Linked DNA regions of Homo sapiens. The protein of the gene in region 1 interacts with the protein of each later gene in a pairwise test. Each region holds a gene or a part of one and is shown in the gene's direction. Other genes may lie near its edges.

Region 1 (5,159 bases):
TTTAATTGGTCCATTTATAGTTTTAATAATACAGTAAGTACCACCTAACCCTGTGCATAACCCTGTGGGCCCCTCCATTCCTTTTTCCTCTGTCCCTCACCTGAGGCAGCTATTTACTGAATCCTATATTCATCATTCTCTCGGTGTCTTTTATAGTTTTATTGCATCACATAATTTAAAACTGTATATATTACATGCCCTATCTTCTGAAAATTTTTTCATTTTATAATACTGAAATTTATATTATGTGTCACTGAAGTTTTCTGATTACTGCATAATATTCCATTTTGTGCATATGGCATAATTTATCCATTCTCCTGTTGGTGGTATATGGGTTGTTTCCAGGGTGATACTCTTGTGCTACTCGCTATTGTGAAGAATGCTGCTGTATAGGTGCACACCTCCTGGCATACGTAGGCAAGAGTTTCGATTGGGTTTCACTAGGAGTGGACTTGCTGGGCTGTAGAGTATGTGAATAGGATAAATGAATATTCAGCTGATGAACTGTTTATTTTTCAGAGTTTCCCCCCATCCTCTAAGGTTTAATAAGCTGCTTAGCCAGGCATTCCCTAGGACTGTTATTTTCAGCCTCCATTTAGTGCTTTGGAACACTTTTACATCATTCTTGGAATCCATTTTGTAGGACCCTTAGATAAGAATTCCTTTTTGGTGTTCTCTAATTGAAAGTGCATATAAATAGAATACTAATTTATACTGAACCACATTCTATAGAACACAGCAGTGATTCTCAAACTTTGTCAGAATTACGTGGAGGTTCTCCCACCACTAAAGTTTCTGAATCTGTAGGTCTGTAGTGGCACTTGATAATTTGCATTTTTATTGAGTCAGGTGATGTTGATGCTGCTGGTCCCAGGACCACACGTTGACAACTATAACCAATGATTGAATTTGGGCTAAATCATTGAAAAAACGATGAGTAGATTTATTAATTATGTTTGGTTTCTTTGTTATTTCCAATGCCTTTAGTAGATGCTATTACCATTTCATTATTTGAGGAGTGAAATACCAATAAATAGTAATTTTAAAATTTGATTTGGACTTCTTAGCTGACTTTTAACCTTAAAAGTTGATAGACTTCTAAAAGTGCCTCTTTTTTTTCTTGTTTCTTAATAATCTTCTAAGAATATGATTGCTGCTATTCCTGTGTGTACATTGGAAGAATTTGAAACTGATACACTGTTTGTAAATTGCCATGCTCTTGATTCATACCCTGAATCACCTTTCTCCTTCTCTGAGCTGTTACCAATCAAGATTACGTTGAAAGCCCTTCCAAATTGCAGCATGGCCAAAGTGTTGACTTGTCTATCATACTAAAACAGCAGCAAACCTTACACTAATACATCCTTGAACTTGGACATTCATTCAGCAATCTTGACTGGGCTCCAACCTTGGAGTGAGTGATGATGCCTGTTACCGAAGTGGGGTACAAAGAATATGCTGACAAGCCTGCCAAATGAGAACTCAGTTGTGGTGGGAGAGAAATTTTATTCCTGTTAGATCTGTGCTGTAATACAGTTCATGTTAAGTGTTCTAGAAGCACAGAGAGAAGGGATGGCAGTGCAGGGAAAGCCTGGCAATATATTTGCTAGGTTTTTCAAAATTTTTTTGAATTGCTACATCCAGAATTTAATATTTTGTCTGCTTTTGTGTAGTTCCCATTCCAGTTATTCAATTGGCATAATTATTTGATTATAATTTAGTTTCAGGTGAGGTGGTAAAGAAGAGAATACTTGTTCGGTTTGAAAAAGCAGCTTGAGGGGAGGAAGAGCATTAGGACAAATAACTAATGCATGCGGGGCTTAAAACCTAGATGACGGATTGATAGGTGCAGCAAACCTGCACGTTCTGCACATGTATCCCAAAACTTAAAAAAAAAAAAAGCAGCTTGAATATTGTATCCTTCCCCCTCTCCTGTACTAAAGATAGTAGGGTGTAATGTTAAATGTGCTAGACTACCAGGGTTTGAATTTTGGCTTTGTCATGTTCCAGCTCTGTATCCTAGGTCAAGAAAACTCCAGGCTTCAGTTTCCTTATCTGTAATGGGGGAAAGTATTTGGATCATTGTAAGATTGAATAAGTTCGTACACATAAAATGCTTAGAATTGTTCCAAGTAATTGCTACATGCTTAATAAATTATTTTATTGTTATTAAAATTAGGTAGAATCTCATTTGCTAAACATTGGGTTGTAAAGACAATGTGTGCACATTGTTATAAAAATGTGAAGAAAAGGCAGTGCGTGATGGCTCACACCTGTAATCCCAGCATTTTGGAGGCCAAGGTGGGAGGATCACGAGGTCAGGAATTCGAGACCAGTCTGGCCAACATGGTGAAACCCCATCTCTACTAAAAATACAAAAATTAGCAGGTGCGGTGGCATGCGCCTGTAGTCCCAGCTACTCGGGAGGTCAAGGCAGGAGAATTGCTTGAACCCAGGAAGCAGAGGTTGCAGTGAGCTGAGATCACACCCCACTGCACTCCAGCCTGGGCAACAGAGCAAGACTCCGTCTCAAAAAAAAAAAAAAAAGTGAAGACAAAATAATTTTGATATAAATAGCTGTACTCAGTTCCATATTGGGTCCTATGAGAAATGTAAAAATCAAAAGATAATAGAACTTGAAATTCTTTAAAGGTCATCTAGTTTGACTTCATAATTGAAACCCAAAGAAATTATGACCGGTTCAAGGTTTCTCAGTACATAACAGAAGTGTTGCTGAGAACCATGGCCTCTGATGCTACTCAGTCCAGCGCTCTCTCAGTACCCTGTGCAGCTTCCCTGAAGTGACAGCGCCCTGGAAAACTAACAGTTTAATTGGCAGCCAAGTCCAAAACAGGTGAAAACATTAGCAATAAAAAGTCAGTATATAATGGAATATCAGATGGTGTACATAGATTAAGTCCCTACCGTATTTAACTTTGTGAGCTGCTCTCTTGAAGCGGAAATGCACCTTCTTAGTAATTTCATTCATTGAAGGTTGAAAGATGAAGAGCATTTGTTTTTGAAGAGGGTGTTAATAAAGTCAATTTCCCTCTTTCCTCCTACCAAGGTTGGATTGTTCATTAAGCCAGGGGGAGAGTCCACTTTTGCCAGGTCTGCCAGTACTCCATGGCTTTGCCCTTGATGATAGTTGGGGAAAAGTCTGGCCTCTGTATTTCTGTTCCCTGTCTTCCTGATGGGCCAGATTCCCACAGACATTCCCTCAGGTATGAAGACTGCATTACCCTTGCTCATGGGTATGCGTACATATGTGGAACAGGTGCTAGAAGTGTACCTGATTGGTGGGATTTGTCTAAGTCGAGATTTCCACTCAAGGACAGGGCTGCTACTTTTTGGGATTGAGCTAAGAGTACTTTCACACATTATCTCATTTAATTGTGCTTGAATACTCTGCTGCTAAAAATTTTACAGAATAATACATGCTCCTATAACATTCAAGCTATATAAAGATATGCTATGGAAGAGGTGAAAGCCCTGCTCTTCTACCCCTCCCTGTACCCAAATTATTCCATCCCAAGAAGTGTCATTTGTGACATTTTGTAACTTTTCCAGAACTTTCCCCTAAATATATATAGGTAGTTTGAGTTAACAAAAAATGGTGATCATACTGTTCTAATTAACCTGTAACTTCTTTTTTTGTGCTATACATGCATATGTGCTTTAATCTTTAATAATCCCAGAATAGCCTGGCTGTACCATATGTGTTGGTTTTTAACAGTTTGTCCATGATGGATATTAAGATTGTCTCTAGTTTTTTGCCATTTCAAATAATACTGCAATTCAACAATGTCCTCAATATATATTATGCTTGCTCTCTTATATGCCTAGAAGTATGATTGTTTAGTGGAAAGATTTACACATTTCAAATATTTGTATACTGTTGGAATTGCCCTTTAAAACAACAAACTACTGATCTCTGGTAAAGTGCTATTTCCCTTACATAATTGACTATCTTAAAAAACTGTAGGACATTTGTATAATTTTCTAACCAGTTTTTGCCCAACAAGACTGCTTGCTGTTTTATTTTATGCATTTTTTATCACTCATGCCATTCTACCATTGGTTTTGGTGGTTCAGAATGGTGCTGTTTATCCCCATTTCCTGTGCTTATCATCACCATAATTGCCTTTTAAAAACATAAATTTTTTTTCTTAATATGAAAAACACTTTCATTTATAGAAAATTTGGAAGACACAATAAAATAAAAGTTATATTTTTGTGCATGAAAGTACATAAAGAAAGGAATGAAAGTCCTGCCCTTGCCTTTTCCCTATTTTTTAAGTTGGTTTTTCCTTGCAATTTTTTCTGTCCTTATACCAACTTTTGTGTTTATAGAGCAGAATTTATGCCTGTACATATCTACTGATATTTGTTTTTTTTTCCTGAGGACTAAATAAGCTCATATTAGATATGGTTTTGTAACTTTTTTACATTACTTAACAAAATATCATGGAAGTCTTTCCAAGAGTAAAATAGCTAATAATAGCTAGCATTTATTGAGCACTTACCATGTACCCATGACCTTTTTTTAAGCCCTCTACATGCATAAGTTTATTTAATAAAATTATTAAAGAAATTTGGTAACTAAATTTACTGTTTAACCACATAATTTTTTGAGGTAAACTGCTTTTACTCTCCTTTTGCAGATGAGGAAAGTGAGGCCCAAAGAAGATTTATGTTCAGGACCATTTAGTCTGTAAGTGGAGAAGCCGGGGTTTGGAACCAGATGGTCTGGCTTTGGATTTTAACTCTTTTACTGTACTGTTTCTCATACTGCAGCAATGATCAGTTCAAAGATATATAAGGAATTTAAAGAACAGCATGTAGCTCCCTGCTTTCTAAGCTGAGGATGGCTTTCTAATGGCAGATTTTGGCCAGGAGCTTCATTGAGATTATATCCCTCAACCCAGAGATACACATGAATTATTGTACCATAATTTATGTGTTCACACTATTTTATGCAGTCTGAGCCCAACTGGGAGATAGATTGAGTTCTGTTTTTTCTGGTTCTTAAAGGAGTAGTCGTAGGAGATGCTGCTTCCTGAGCCCCTCACCCACTGAAGCAACAATATGTGATGGTTAAGAGAATGGGCTCTGCAGTCCAATGTGGGGTTGGGGGGTTGGAATCCTGCCTCTGCCAC
Region 2 (5,114 bases), on another chromosome or scaffold:
AAAAATACAAAATTAGCTGGGCGTGGTGGTGCATGCCTGTAACCCTAGCTACTAGGGAGGCTGAGGCAGGAGAATCACTTGAACCTGGCAGGTGGAGGTTGCAGTGAGCTGAGATTGCGCCATTGCACTCCAGATTGGGCAACAAGAGCAAAACTCCATCTCAAAAAAAAAAAAAAAAAAAAAGACAGGGAATCATTGATCTAGAATAGGGCTTGGTCAACTGTGGCCTGAGAACTAAAAATAGTTTTCTATTTTTATATGGTTGGAAAAAAATTCATGACACATAAAAAATATGAGATTCAAATTTCAGTGTTCATACATAGAGTTTTACTGAACACAGCCATTCATTTATATATTGTCTATGGCTGCTCTGCAGCAGAGTTGGATAGTTGGGATAAAGACCATATGGCCGGCAAACCCTCAGATATTTACTGTCTGGCTCCTTGCCGAAAATATTTGCCAACTTCTATTCTAAAAGAATCAGTGGAAGTCCTTGTTTTTTTGTGTGTTTGTTTTTGCAGCTTGGTAATATGCACCTCACCATTTCTATCAGAAAATTGAGATGTACTCTGCGTCATCTATACAAACAAATATGCTCTGTGTGAGTGTGTGTGTGTGTGTATGAGAGAGAGAATTTACTGATTTCTAGACCTGTTTTCTCACTGTCCTCATTTCTGCCTTCTTGCCTTGTAAGATAAATATGTATCATTATTTTTTCTCCCTTGAAATAGACCTTATTTTTTACAGCAGTGGTAGGTTCACAGCAGAATTAAGCAGAAAGAACAGAGAGTTCCCATATACAACCTTCCCCCCGAAAAGAGCCTCCTTTCCTGTCAACATCCTTTATCAGAGTGGTACATGTGTTACAACTGATCAACCTACAACGACACATCACCATCACCCAAAGCCCATAGGGTACATTAGGGTTCATTCTTGGTGTCGTACATTCTGTGGGTTTGGACAAATGTATAAGGATGTGCATCCACCATTACAGTATCATGCAGAGTAGTTTTCACTGCCCTAAAGTCCTCCTGCTCCACTTAGTCATCCCTCCCTCCCCCCAACCCCTGGCAACCACTGATTTTTTTACTGTCTTCATAGTTTTGGTTTTTCCAAAGTGTCATATAGTTGGCATCATATAGTCTCTCTCTGTCACCCAGGCTGGAGTGCAGTGGTGCAGTCATAACTCAATTTAACCTCGAACTCCTGGGCTCGAGGGATCCTCCCTCTTCTGCCTTCTGAATAGCTGGGACTATATGTATGGACCACACGTCTGGCTGATGTTTTTATTTTTTGTAAAGATGGGGTCTTGCTAGTTGCCCAAGCTGGTCTTGAACTCCTGGCCTCAAGTAGTCCTCCCACCTCAGCTTCCCAAAGGGCTAGGATTACAGGCATGAGCCCAGATAGGCTTCTTTCAGTTAGTAGTATTTATTGCAAGTTCTTCCGTATCATTCTTCTTGATATTTGATTAAGGGCTGGGCCAGGTAGGGATGGATCCTGGATACAAATTTCCAAGGGCTGTTATCAAAATGGAAAAAATTGCCTTTTTCCAGAAATCTTCTTGGGAAGAGTGTTGTGCATGGAATAGGATGCAAGGCTCCCAAGGGTGGAAGTCTTAAAGGGGGGTCAGTGAACTCCATCCTGTGGAGGGAGAGTGCAGTCAACTGCAGGGTGAGGGTTTTGCTGAGTGGTGTCTGTAAGTTTGTAACCAGAGTGGAATTGCTAAGGATGAAAACACCTAAACTTCCATATAAGCCATGCCCCCTTTTTGTTTTCTCATGCAATACCAGGCCTCTAATCTAAATAAATGGTGCCCCAAGAATTTAAAGAATATTGCTGCCAAATTATTAGCCGTCTGGAGTGGTCACATGTCTTAGAATGGCCCAAGATATGTATTTTTATTAGCATGATCTAAAAGAAGGATCACCAGCTTTGGAAGATTGAATTCTTACTTCAATCCTTATCTTAACTTTAACCACATGGTTTGGTGGCTTTCTAAATTTCTTTTTTTACATGGTTGCTAATAAATATATCATTTACAACATCCAGTGAGGTCACTGAATGACATCTGTGAATGTCTGCATTGTTTGAACAACTTGCTCTACCAGAAGTGTGGTGTTGTCAATTGGCCATTTGATTCCCAAAGTCTTACCCTTGTCAAAAACTTAATTTAGGGAGTCCCAAAGAGAGGTATTTGGGGCTGGGTCTGATTAGATATCTCATAATTATATTGTACTTATCACTTCTATTCAATTCAACCAAATTTACTGAAAGTCTGCTATGGGCATGGCATGGCAGAGGGTGAATAAGGCATAGTCAGCTCTTGGCACTTAGTTAATGGAAATTATGTTTCATATGTTCCTCCTTTCCTTTCCTGTAGGTTCAGCTGAATCCAGAACTTGGTGTTAAGAATGGCATCTTGGGAGCTGGCATGCTTCCCCTGGGCTCCAGGCTGACTTCTGTCTCTGCAAAGAGGACCTCAGAACCCAGGAGCCAGAGGAACCAGGGCAAGAGGTCCCAGGGGCATTCTCTGGAGCTTCCTGAGCCCAGTGGGAGCCCCACATCAGACAGGTGTGCTGGCACTTCGTGGAAAAGCCCTGGCCGGTCATTCCAGGTCAGCAGCCCAGCTATGGGTGCCCACCTGCACCTGTCTTCTCATCACCTTGAATCCGGGGCCAGAATGAAGGTCCTCAACCGGGAAAACAGCTTTCAGAAGCTTGAGGCCGAGACGAATGTTGACACCGGCTTGACCATCATAAATTCTGAACCCAGGCAGACTTATTTTGGCGGATTTCCAAGGGATTTACAGACCAGCCAGCCACCATTCTGCTTGCCAGCCTCTTCCTTGGGGGTGGCTACCTCCAAAAACAACAGTGTCCTTAAGGAAAGAGTCTCTCCTTTGCCACTTGCTGGCCAAAGGGACCTTGGTACCAGGAAGACAATTTCAGAATGTCTCCTTCATCTGCAAGTTCAGGGTGAAGAAAAAGAAGAAGATGAAGAAGAATTCTTTATATAGCATAAAATAAATGTGGTTTTCTAAAACACAAGATCAGATAAAATGTTCTAGAAATGGAGTACTGACCCAGAATCAGCCTGTTAGTTGTTCATCTGAGGGGGGCTGAATGCTCCCCATGCACAATCTGTATTGATTTTATTTCAAATGTTCAAAGTCTAAAGGTGCTGGGAATGATTGTTTATTTGCCGTCACAGTCATAAGAGAACACAGCCAACACACAGGGAAAAAAACCGAATGCTTTTGTTCCGTGGAGATGCACTAACCCAGCTGGATGTGTTGAATCCAGCACCTATCAGGATAATTGCATTGTATGCAAATGAATCGGTATGTTATACAACACTAATTAGTGTCTGTAATTTGGTTTTAATTTTTACTTAGGTTGCATAGCTCATCCCCCTGGACAATATGGACTGCTATTTACTCTTGAATGCTTTTTAATTTTCATGTGACCTCTTTTGGTAACTAGGCCTTGTTCACATACCCTCCTTGTGATTTTGTCTTTAAAGTTGTTTGTATCTGGAATGAGTGAAAATGCAAAGTGTTTTGAAAATTATAAACAGTTAATTTTGTTTTCCTGTTTAATGAGCCAAAATACTGGAAGCCAGAAAATCAGGTTGAACATGAATGCTAGGCTCTAGGGCTTTCCTGCTCATCTGCTTCTCATTTGTTTCTGCACTATGTCAAAGAGGACAGTGGTTCTTGTTACAAACCAAAGAGGAACATTGAGCACAGTGGGAAAATTGGACTGGTTGATCTGGTCACTGGAGCAGGACTTGGGTTCTTCTGGCCAGATTTTGACTCCCAGATTCCTTTACAAAACGCACTCATTCATTCATTTATATATGTTCATTCAATAAACATTTTTTGAATACCTACATTTGAATAAGACATTGTGTATATGGTACATATACATTCTGGGGCCATGAAACCCAAAAAGTGTTTATGGTTTCACCACTCTGATAAATTCATTCTACCAACTTTTAAAAAGATACTGAATTCCAAATATATTCCTCCAAAAACTTTTTCCACAGTTGAGGCCCACACTGGCCACATAATGGTGTAATAAGCATTTGCAACCTGCAGATGGAGACTGGGCATATTATGAATTGCAATTATAATTGCAATGGACAAATTCTCGTTGCCCATATGCTGAATTTTTTGGATATGTCTGTACACACATGTTTAAAAATCCCGAGGCCTGTGTTTCAGTTCATTTATAAGGTTATTCAATTCCACGAACTTCACTCTCAGAACAGATGTTACATAAGAGTGTAAATGTTGATTTAGCTGGATCTTTTGGAGACTTGGAGACTTACTACACCTAACTGGAGACAGAGATGAGTTCAGTCCTAAAGTCAAATCTTGCAAAAGTGAGTCTAGGCTGATTTTGGGTGCTCTTCTCCGCAAAAGGGATAGAAACGGAGGAGAGTTGTAAATGGACAAAGACAAGACTCCTCAATTGATATTTTTTGTCCTTAAAACATCAACATATTCTCATTCCCATTTTGTCTCTCTCTCCCCTAGACTACAATTTGATTTTAGAAAACGGGATGAAGAGCTTAACTTTGGTATAGCTTTCTATAATAAGAGTTAAAACAAAAAAGGAAGTTGAACTACTGAACTTTGAATAAGCACAGCAGGAAGAAGTTTTGAAATTTCCTTCCCACTTTTTTTTTGATGTTATCTAAATTTTCTTAATATAATACATGGGTAAGAATAAAAGTACCTGAAAATTATAAAGAATATTGAGAAATGTGAATCAGGCACCTTACAAAATTGACTTGTAAAATAATATACCCTTAAAATGTCATCTATTCTATCCTACTTGTATTATTCAGGGTTCCCTAGAGGAACAGAACTAATAGGATAGATAGATGTATATATGAAAGGGAGTTTATTAAGGAGTATTGACTCACACAATCACAAGGTGAAGTCCCACAATAGGCTGTCTGCAAGCTGAAGAGCAAGGAAGCCAGTCCAAGTCCCAAAACCTCAAAAGTAAGGAAGCTGATAGAGCAGCCTTCGGTCTATGGCCGAAGGCCCTAGAACCCCTGGCAAATCACTGGTGTAAGTCCAAGAGTCCAAAGCTGAAGAACTT
Region 3 (5,159 bases), on another chromosome or scaffold:
CCCAGTAAGCAGAGGTTGCAGTGAGCCGAGATCATGCCACTGCACTCCAACCTGGGCGACACAGCAAGACTCCATCTCAAAACAAACAAAAGAAACACCCAGTCCTGTCTCCCAGCTTCATCCTACCGAATCTGAATCTCTAGGTTGATGGTGAAAGAATTTTACATTTTAAAAGTTCCTCAAGTGATTTTGAACATTAACCAAACTTAGATGGACTAGATAACCCTTGAGAACTCTTTCAACACTTTAACCGTATGAGAATCTTTTTCTTTGTAACAACTCCTGTACGTGTGTGTGTGTGTGTGTGAGATACACGTGACAAAATGAGCCTAGAAAATGTAGATTTTGCTAGCATGAAATAGAGAGGGAATTCTAACTCTTCCTATTATAATGATATCATAATTAACTAGACTTTTAGAATAACATGTCTGCATCAACTCACTTGCCTATTGCTGAAGTTGTTGGAAAGAGAAGTAAAGCAAATATCACTGGAAATTTGTTTGATGATAGAGAGATTACAATGCCTCCAAAGGATATCATTCTGTTCTGTGCTGCAGTGTTCACTGTGCAGCCCTGTACATGTAAAAGTATAGGATACTGGGATAATAATGGATACAGCTAGTATTTACAAGTGCTTCTAAGAATTTTAAATGCAGCATTTAATCTTCATATTAACTCTACAAGGTGAAAATTATTACCACCTCTCTTCTACAGATGAAGAGTCTGGGTCCAGAGAGGTCCAGTCACATATGCAAGGTCACAGCCAGCCAGTGAGAGGTGAAGCTGCTCAGGCGTGCACTCACGGGGCACCTGACTCCTGAGGCGACAGCCTTCACCTCTGTGCTCGGCATTTGTCCTAGCGATGATTCCTTTTTGCTTATTCCCAGAGAGCATCTTTGATTTCTTTCCACGCCTTCTAAAAGTAGTTCGCTTTCTCCTACAAATGGAGTGTAGCTAAGATCTTACACTTACATAAGCATTCTACTATCAGGGTCTGGTCATTAAGCATTCTACTATCAGGGTCTGGTCATTAAGGTTCCTCTGTAGCAGTCTCCTCTTAATGACATACTGGCCCATTCTTGTTCCCCTGTTGAAAGGTGAAATGAGGGTTGTGGCTCTCTTGTGAGATAAAAGTCAGTTGCTGCTTTCTACTGCATCTTTAAAATGAAATCTCCCACGCTTTACATGTATTTTACATACATTCCTATAATAAATTACATATACAATCATATGACACAAATGATATATAATGTACACATAGTGAATGTCACTCTTTTTGGTGTACAAGTCTATGAGATTTAATGTGTTTCTGTGGCTCCTACCCTTTGCTGAAGCTGTGACATGAATGAACACAGAGGGTGGGAAGAGCACCGGAACTGACCTCAAAGCCCTTCCCTGAGTCCCAGTAGTGCATCTACTAAATGGAAGCTCCATGAAGGCAGGGACCTTTTCTTGTCCCTAGAATAGTACCTGACACATGATAGCCTCTCAATAAATATTAACTGTATATTTTTCTATATAATTTTATTCTAGAGAGAGAAAGAATATAGCTAAATTCTAGTTATTTAACCTCCAGGAACCTCAGTTTCCACATCTGTAAAATGGGAATAAAGTTATTGTATACCATGTAAAGTTTATGTAAAAATTAACATGTATAAAAGCACACATAAAATGTAAAGTGTGGCCAGGCACTTTACAGGCCATAGCTCATGCCTGTAATCCCAGCACTTTGGGAGGCTGAGGAGGGTGGATCACTTGAGGTCAGGAGCTCGAGACCAGCCTGGCCAACATGGCAAAACCCCGTCTCTAGTAAAAATACAAAAAATTAGCCAGGAGTGGTGGCACATGCCTGTAATCCCAACTACTGGGGAGGCTGAGGCACGAGAATTACTTGAACCTGAGAGGCAGAGGTTGCAGTAAGCCGAGATCACACCACTGCTCTCCAACCTGGTCGACAGAGAGAGACTCTGTCTCAAAAAAAAAAAAAAAAAAAAAAAAAAAAAAAGAAGCTAAGTGCCGTACAAATGTATGGGAATATAGACAAAACTGAAGAAGGATAGAATTGATGTCTTTTTTTTTTTTTTTTAAGACAGAGTTTCGCTCCTGTTACCCAGGCTGGAGTGCAATGGCATGATCTCGGCTCACCGCAAACTTCGCCTCCCAAGTTCAAATGATTCTCCTGCCTCAGCCTCCCGAGTAGCTGGGATTACAGGTGCCTGCCACCACGCCCAGCTAACTTTTGTATTTGTAGTAGAGACGAGGTTTCACCATGTTGGCCAAGCTGGTCTCGAACTCCTGACCTCATGATCCGATTACAGGCATGAGCCACCGCGCCTGGCCACAATTGATGTCTTATAGTGAAAACAGTCATATGCTTCAGGGATGTGTCACTTTGAATCCATTATTTTAATGTCAGCTTCAAAATTCTGGTCTTATCTGGCCACCTGCACTCTTTCTATAAAGAATCTTGTTTTATTTTATTTTTTTATAGATTTTATTTATTTATTTATTTATTTATTTATTTATTTATTTTGAGATGGAGTCTCACTCTGTCGCCCAGGCTGGAGTGCAGTGGCACAATCTCTGCACACTGCAAGCTCCGCCTCCCGGGTTCACGCCACTCTCCTGCCTCAGCCTCCCGAGTAGCTGGGACTACAGGCGCCCGCCACCATGCCCGGCTAATTTTTTGTATTTTTAGTAGAGACGGGGGTTCACTGTGTTAGCCAAGATGGTCTCGATCTCCTGACCTCGTGATCCGCCCGCCTCGGCCTCCCAAAGTGCTGGGATTACAGGCGTGAGCCACTGTGCCCAGCCTGTTTTATTTTTTAATATAGCTCTGTATGTGAAATTCTGGGTTTGATAGAGTAGTGATACATTTTTCTGAAACACATAAAATACACAACCATCAAACAGTTTTCATGCTTTACGTGATTCTTCTACTACCTAAATCACTTCCTATTTTTCCCACTGACAGCTGTTGCTTTCCTCTCTCCCTAAATTAATTTTGGAGTAGGATACACTTTCCTTTACTCTGCTCACCCGAAACCCATTTAGGTTTTTAAACACTGTGTTTTTATTTTTTAAAGTCTATAAACCACAGAGAATTAAATGAGGATTTATAAAAATGTAACAAGTAATAAGAAACCTAGCTCAGAAGCTCTCAAATTTTAATGCTGTGTACACAAAACTATGTATGTAATACTTTATGAGTGACAAAGGATTTATTTTCAAGGATGAAACTGAATATTTGAATTTTGTCTCATACACTAACATTAGACCTGAATTTTCATAACATCAATGGTGTTGTGGGACTTAGGCTATCATTAATATTTCACTAGATCCCACCACAAACAAACATTCCCCTTCTGTTTCAGAGCTCCTGCTGATAGCTGGATGTTCTAGAAAATTCCTGTTCCCAGTCTGAATGGTGCCTCTGGTAGTTCTTGACTAATTTGCAGAGCAGAGATGATTGGCATTCCTGAGCCCCAATGAATGGGGCCTTTTTTAGGTCCTAGTTACCAATACTTCCCATCTCCCAAAATTCTCTGATTGCTCATTTGTTTATTCATTTATTCATCTATTTGTTCACCAAATATTTATTTAGCACATACCAAGTGCCAGGCATTGTGTGGTCGTTTCATTGTATGGTGATGAGCCAGGCAGATATGGTTTCTGGTTTTAACAAAGAGATGTTTAACAAGAGTATAACAGGTAGACCTGGTATCTGTGGAGTCAGGGAAAGTTTCCATGAGGAAGGGACATTTAAACTGAGATAAGAAGTAGCTGGATGAAGTGGGGAGGAGGGCATGTAGGTGTGAGGACCATGGGTGCTGGAATTTTGAAAATGGTAATCAACCACAGCATGTGCAAAAGTCCTGCAGTGGGAAGGAACACGATGGACTCTAGGTGAATGAGAGATTCAGAGAGTAACTGGAGATGGTTCTGGAGACATGGGCAGGGCCAAATCACACAGGGTTTTGTAAGCCATGTCAGATAAGAATTTTAAACTCTATCTTAAGATCAATGGGAAGCCACTGATAAGGCAGGAGAGTGGCATAAGCAGGTTCATATTTTTAAATGTCACTCTGTCTACACTGTGGAGAATGGGTGGGAGGGGAAAGTAAAAGGATGAAGGAAGACCAATTATAAGGACACAACAAAAGCACAAGTGAGAGATGATGTTGAGACCAGGATAGTGGGGTCACGATCAGGATGGAGAGAAGCAGCCAGATATGAGATCTTTAGGAAACAGAATGATCAGAATTATCAGGTGATAGGTTAGATGTGAGTGCATGGAGAGGGTAAGGAGGCCAGGTAGATTCCTGGGTTTCTCTTGAACAATTAGGCAGACAATGGGGTAAAGTTAGTACCGTTTGCTGAATTAGGGTAGCCAGGAGCAGAAGCAGGTTTGTGAGAGAAAGAGAAGGTAGGGCTGCATTATTGCCAAGTAGATATCAAAGTGGAGGTGTCCAGTTTTACAAAAACGTCCTTTGTAGCTTAGGAAAGAGATCAGGGCTGCAGACGTTAAGATGGTTATCTGCCAGTGCTATCTAAATAGGCAACAACAATCATTATAATAGTATTCAAGGGGAAAAACTGGTAGCCTCTCACTGAGGCCCAAGAAATCACAAGGCATGAATTCTCACATTAAAATGCTTGTTTCCAACTCACCAGGCTGTATACATTCAATATGTGTAGCTTTTGTATGTCAATCTTAGTTCAATAAAGTAGTTTTTAACAATATGGTGCACAAGGTAAAAAGAAATACTTGATTTTCTTATATAATAATACACAACTTCAGATATCAAGGGCTTACATAAACTATGCCAAAAGATTTAATAAACAATCATCATTAAGATGACATCCAAAAAGTTATGGTCGTTTCAACCAGTCTAGTGGGAAACTCTGGGCTTTGACCTAGGATTTTTGTTTCAGCTCCAAAGTGGTTGGGAAGATTTTGTTTTCTTAAAAGCCAGCTTTCCTTGAACAAAGCTCCTGTTGCTTTCTGGAGTGCCTTATAAAGAATGCTGGGAACTGCTTAAATAAAAAACTAAGGTAAATACATATGCACATAAATAAAATCCCAAACTAAAAATAAATTGTCTCTTTTAATAAAAAATATAAAGTAAAATAGAATGCCAGACTCACTGAACTTCCCA
Region 4 (5,159 bases), on another chromosome or scaffold:
AAATTTGTCTTTAGGAGCAATAGAGAATAGGGTGGACAGTCAAGTTCAGTGGGCTGAATATCGGCAGACCTGCTTCTTTTGATTGCCCCTTATATTAGAATGGTGGCTCTTTTAGTTCATAGAGCACTGTGGATCTGTAAGCTGTGGATTCTGGCCAGAACCATGCAATAAGCAGACAGTTTTGCATACAGTTGAGTAATTGACCCACGGACTACTCAGTCTGTGGACCTCAGGGTGTAATTCCCAGTATCAATGTGTGTGGGGATTATTTCACTATTCTTTGCTACAAATAATTTCTGTAAATTGCCCTTGGTATTTGCCTTGATGCAGATTCCAGAGATGTCTGGAAAGCAAGTATAATAGGTATAGGTCATTGTACAGGAAAAGGCTTTGCTTAAACAAGTGCCCGGTTCAGGAAAAGATATGTTTCCTGAAGAAGATACTTTTTTTTTTTTTTTTTTTTTTTTTGAGATAGAATCTCATTCTCTTGCCCATGCTGGAGTGCAGTGGTGCGATCTCGGCTCATTGCAACCTCCACCTTCTGGGTTCAAGCGATTTTCCTACTTCAGCTTCCCAAGTAGCTGGGACTACAGGCACCCACCACCATACCTGGCTAATTTTTTATATTTTTAGTAGAGATGGGGTTTCACCGTGTTAGCCAGGATGGCCTTGATCTTCTGACCTCATGATCTGCCTGCCTTGGCCTCCCAAAGTGCTGGGATTATAGGCGTGAGCCACCACACCTGACCGCAAGATACTTCTTACACAGAGGCTGCCATCGCAGAAGCTTGTGTTGTACTATCGACCCCCATTTTGGGTCATTTTTTATCAGAAAGATGAGTTGTTCTGCAGCTACAGATTGCGTGTATAATCCTGGCCAGCATCTCTAAAGCTTGTCAGCTGCTTCACGAGTGAGTACCCCTGTTCACAGAGGAGATCAGGTGAGTGTGCAGGTCTGAACTTACTACTGCAATGGGAAGGTCAGCTCAGAGAGCATTAACTTTGGATACAGATGATAACACAACAAAACTATTACCTCATATCTACGTCGCTATGAGCAGACTGGGAATAGGGTAATAGTGCTTGGAGTTGGCAGAGGTGCAACAGTAGATGGCCATGGGTGCTGCTTTGGAAGGGCCTAAGGATACAGTTGTTGAATGATTGTAAGAACAAGAGAAAGGTGGAGTCTCAATAAGGCAGCCGTACAATATGTTTATCAAGCCTTCAATAGGTTTAGTATATACTCCTTTGGTGCATGCTTACAAGTTTACTGAACTATAACCAAACATCCCACTGGGAAATGTTTTGAATTGATGTGAGAATTTGACATTAAGTAGCAACTTGGGACATCAGAGAGGCCTCAAAAAGAAAAAAAAGTTAACAAGAAATTAGTGATTAGGTTGAAAGAGACATTCTACTCCTACTACCTAGAGAGCATAGATAGAGAAAAATAAGCACCTTCTATACCCATACCAGGACTTAGGCAGCTGCTGCTTGCAATAGCTGCAGGCCTGGTCCTCATGCACCTTACAGAGAACGAGTCAGTACAAGCTCAGACCCAGTTGATAAAAATGAACCAAAATGAATTAAAAAGTCCCTGTGGTTGGAGCTATATGGGTAATAGCTTTACCAAATATTTGTGTAGCCAATTGTAGTTTATGGTGCAAAACACTAAAATCCCTCCACAGAATCTCTGGGGTAAACATTATTTTCATTTTTTTCAGATGAAAATAGTAACTTTTCAGATGAAAGCTTATAGCTAACACTTGATTTTTGAGATTTATATATATTATATATCAGTTAAAATAGCTTTAAGATTCTAAAAATGTAAGCTTATTTTTTCCTCTTTAAGAGGAAGTGATATTTTTATTACATGCATGGGATTGAAGGGGTGTGTTATTAAAAGTAGAGCATTGGACTAGAGATTGGGGAATTACTGCTTCTGGTCTTGATGCTGCCAGTAACTGAATATTACTCAGGGTCTCTTTTTTTTCTCAAGTATAAATTGAGTCAGTCTTACGGGGATTTTTCTAGGATGTGTCTCAGTTTCTCAGTTTCTCAGATGGGTTTCAGCAACATTCCCAGTGGCTGTCAGTTGTTAGAAGGATGCAGCTGGCTCTGGCATTTTCAAATAGAAAGTCTTCTTGTCTTCCAAGAAGGGAGTCGTAGTTTTTTCCTTCAAAGAGCACACACAGCATTTGATCTGTAGCCTTTCCCTTTTCCATCTTATTTCCATTCTGGTTTGGGCCCTGAGATACAAGTAACAGTTGAGGTATAGACTATTTAGTTCACTGATGTATCACAGGGCCTTGATTAGTGCCTGGCCTGGGAGACATTTGTTGAATGAATGACTTAATATATAGGAGCTTGCAATCTAGTGGAAAGGCAGAAAGGTGAATGTGGAAAGGCTAATTCCTGTTCTTTCATTGAGACTGTATTGGAAGTTTGAGAAAGGAACAGCAGGCACAAGGAATGGTAGCTTTAGGTAGGCAGGGTTGGAATGGAGTGGACAACTGTTTTGGTCAGTGAAGGCTTGGATGTTTAGACTGCGTCTTGAAAGGTGACTCCCTCCCAATGGTACAGGAGAGAGGGCAATGTAGGCGTGTGTAAAGGCAAGGAGATGGACGTAGAACAGGATATGTAATATTAAGGAAAAAAACTGTAGAATTTGAGGTTGGAGAGTTAGGCCATCACCAAATGATGAAGTCTTGAATGCTGTACAAAGAATTTGAATTTTTCTGTAAACAGACAGTAGCTATTGAAGAATTTGAAGTAGGGAGTTACCATTATCACATTTGCATTTTAAGCGGATGGTACAGGAATTAGGGCAGGAGAAATGGGATGAGAGAAGAGAGGAATTCATTAAATATTTAGGGATTGATGAAGTCAGAGCTAAGAATGAGAGAGAAAGAAGAGTTAAGAACAAGCCCTATGTTTGAATTTAGGAAGCTGGGTGTTGGTGGTGTCATTAATGAGGTAAGGAAGGCAGGAGAAAGAGGAGATATGCGGCAAACGTGAGATCAATTTTGGACACTTTGGGTGTGAGGTGCTTCTGGTTTGCCAGAAGGAAGGTGTTCATTAGGCACTTCAGTGTGGAGACCGGGCTTCTGAGAGATAGGTCTTAAGCTCGAGTGAATGCATTTATTAATGGAATTTATTAGTTTATCAACAACAGTTAGAAATCAAGAGATTGGATGAGAGTGCCAGTACAAGGGCACATAGAATGAGAAGGGCCCTTCAGCATTGAAGTGCAGGCAGGAGAGGGGAAGCTGCAAAAGAGATAAAATGTGGCCAGAGTCCTAGGAGAACCAGGACAGCAGGATGTCAGAAAAGCCAAGGGAGGGCTTTCCAGAAGACGGGAGTGGCCAGAGGTGTTAGATGCTAAAGGGAAGCCATATAAATAAGGCATTTTATAAATATAAAATATTTATTTACATAAATATCAAAAGTTATTTATTTGGTCATTGGTGACTTCTACCAGAGAATGTTCACTGTTGCACTGAGGGTAAAAGCCAGAGAGTGGTGAGTTCAGGAAGTGGAAATGGGAAGGAGACCCTTGATACAGGAGGAGGATCACTCAGTTACTTGAAATGGAAATCCTGGGGTCTTCCTTGATGACTTCTGCTTTACTCCCACATCTACTCAGATACTGGGTAGTGATGCTGAGGGATGTTTGAGTGGGATCTTTTTTTTTTTTTTTTGAGACGGAGTCTCACTCTGTTGCCCAGGCTGTGGCGCGATCTCACTGCAAGCTCTGCCTCCCGGGTTCACGCCATTCTCCTGCCTCAGCCTCCTGAGTAGCTGGGACTACAGGCGCCCGCCACCACGCCCAGCTAATTTTTTGTATTTTTAGTAGAGATGGGGTTTCACCATGTTAGCCAGGATGGTCTCGATCTCCTGACCTCGTGATCCGCCCACCTCGGCCTCCTAAAGTGCAGGGATTACAGATGCGAGCCACCATGCCTGGCCTTGAGTGGGATCTTGAGACTCAGACTTTTTGGGTTTGAATCCTTCCTCTGCTACTGATAAAGTATCTGATCCAGGGCCAGTTATTTAATCCGGCTATGCTTCAGTTTTTTCACCTATAAAATAGAGATACAAAAGTATCTATCTCATAGGCCTGTGAAGGAGTAAATAAGTGAAGTGCCTAGCTTAGTGTAGCGCCTGGCACATAATAAGCACTCAGTGAATGTTAGTATTTTAAATCCTAAATACCTTTTAAGTGTGTTCTCCCCTGGATTACCATAATAGCTTTTTTTTTTTAAAGTTTATTAAAGTAAATTGTTGTAGAGTAATTTACATGCCATGAAATTCATCCATTTTAAGTTTACATTCCAACACTTTTTTTTTTTTTTTCTAGATAGGGTCTTGCTCTGTTGCCCAAGCTGGAGCACAGTGGCATGATCATGGCTCATTGCAGCCTTGACCTCCTGGGCTCAAGTGATCCTCCCTCCTCAGCCTCCCGAGTAGCAATTCAACACTTGATGAATTTACTGAGTTGTGCAAACATCACTACAATGCAATTTTAGAATATTTTTATCACCCCAATAAGATCTCTTGTGCCTGTTTACAGTTAATCCCTATTCCCACCCCAGCTCTAGGCAACTACTTAATCTACTCTATAGGGATGCTTTTTCTGGGTGTTTCATATAAATAGAATCATTCAATATGTGGCCCTTGTGTTTGCTTCTTTCACTTAGCTTAATGATTTTTAGGTCTATCTGTACGGTAGCACATGTCATAACTTCACTGCTCTTTATTGCTGAGTTGTATAGTGTTGTATGGATATGTAAGATTTTGTTTATCCATTCACCGTAGATAGACATGTGTTTGTTTCCACCCTTGCTCTTATGAATAATGCTGCTATGAACATTCCTGTGCAAGTCTTTGTGTGGACATATGCTTAATAGCTTCTTAATTGGTCCTTTAGCCTCCTTCAGGGATCCTGCTTCTGTTCTTGTCCCCCTCCAATCTGTTCTCTACATTGTAGCCAGAGTGATTTTCCTAAAGTGTAAATCTGATCGTGCCATTCCCCTGCTTAAAATCCTTCAGTAGTGCTCAGGTACCCTCAGGGTCAAGTTCAAACTGTTTCAATTGAAGAGTTCACTAAGAATCTTCAAAATTTGGAATCTCTACCTTCCCTCCCCACCTTCTCTTTC

What was found. The genes of interacting proteins can lie anywhere in the genome.
Region 2: the proteins of SSX2IP (region 1) and FAM124B interact in binary tests that used the Homo sapiens proteins (3 or more experiments, as listed by UniProt).
Region 3: the proteins of SSX2IP (region 1) and CCDC198 interact in binary tests that used the Homo sapiens proteins (3 or more experiments, as listed by UniProt).
Region 4: the proteins of SSX2IP (region 1) and CHCHD3 interact in binary tests that used the Homo sapiens proteins (3 or more experiments, as listed by UniProt).

Annotation. Positions count from the first base shown.
Region 1 is NC_000001.11:84,679,893-84,685,051, reverse strand, and holds part of SSX2IP (afadin- and alpha-actinin-binding protein), read left to right. Parts: intron 1-2,584; exon of another isoform or gene 2,585-2,854; intron 2,855-3,067; exon of another isoform or gene 3,068-3,224; intron 3,225-4,664; exon of another isoform or gene 4,665-4,714; intron 4,715-5,159. UniProt on the Homo sapiens protein: Belongs to an adhesion system, which plays a role in the organization of homotypic, interneuronal and heterotypic cell-cell adherens junctions (AJs).
Region 2 is NC_000002.12:224,377,475-224,382,588, reverse strand, and holds the end of FAM124B (protein FAM124B), read left to right. Parts: intron 1-2,380; coding exon 2,381-3,016; 3' UTR 3,017-3,891; downstream 3,892-5,114.
Region 3 is NC_000014.9:57,472,635-57,477,793, reverse strand, and holds part of CCDC198 (factor associated with metabolism and energy), read left to right. Parts: intron 1-2,089; coding exon of another isoform or gene 2,090-2,212; intron 2,213-5,159. UniProt on the Homo sapiens protein: May be involved in tuning the metabolism, energy expenditure, and excretion processes.
Region 4 is NC_000007.14:133,071,368-133,076,526, reverse strand, and holds part of CHCHD3 (MICOS complex subunit MIC19), read left to right. Parts: intron 1-5,159. UniProt on the Homo sapiens protein: Component of the MICOS complex, a large protein complex of the mitochondrial inner membrane that plays crucial roles in the maintenance of crista junctions, inner membrane architecture, and formation of contact sites to the outer membrane.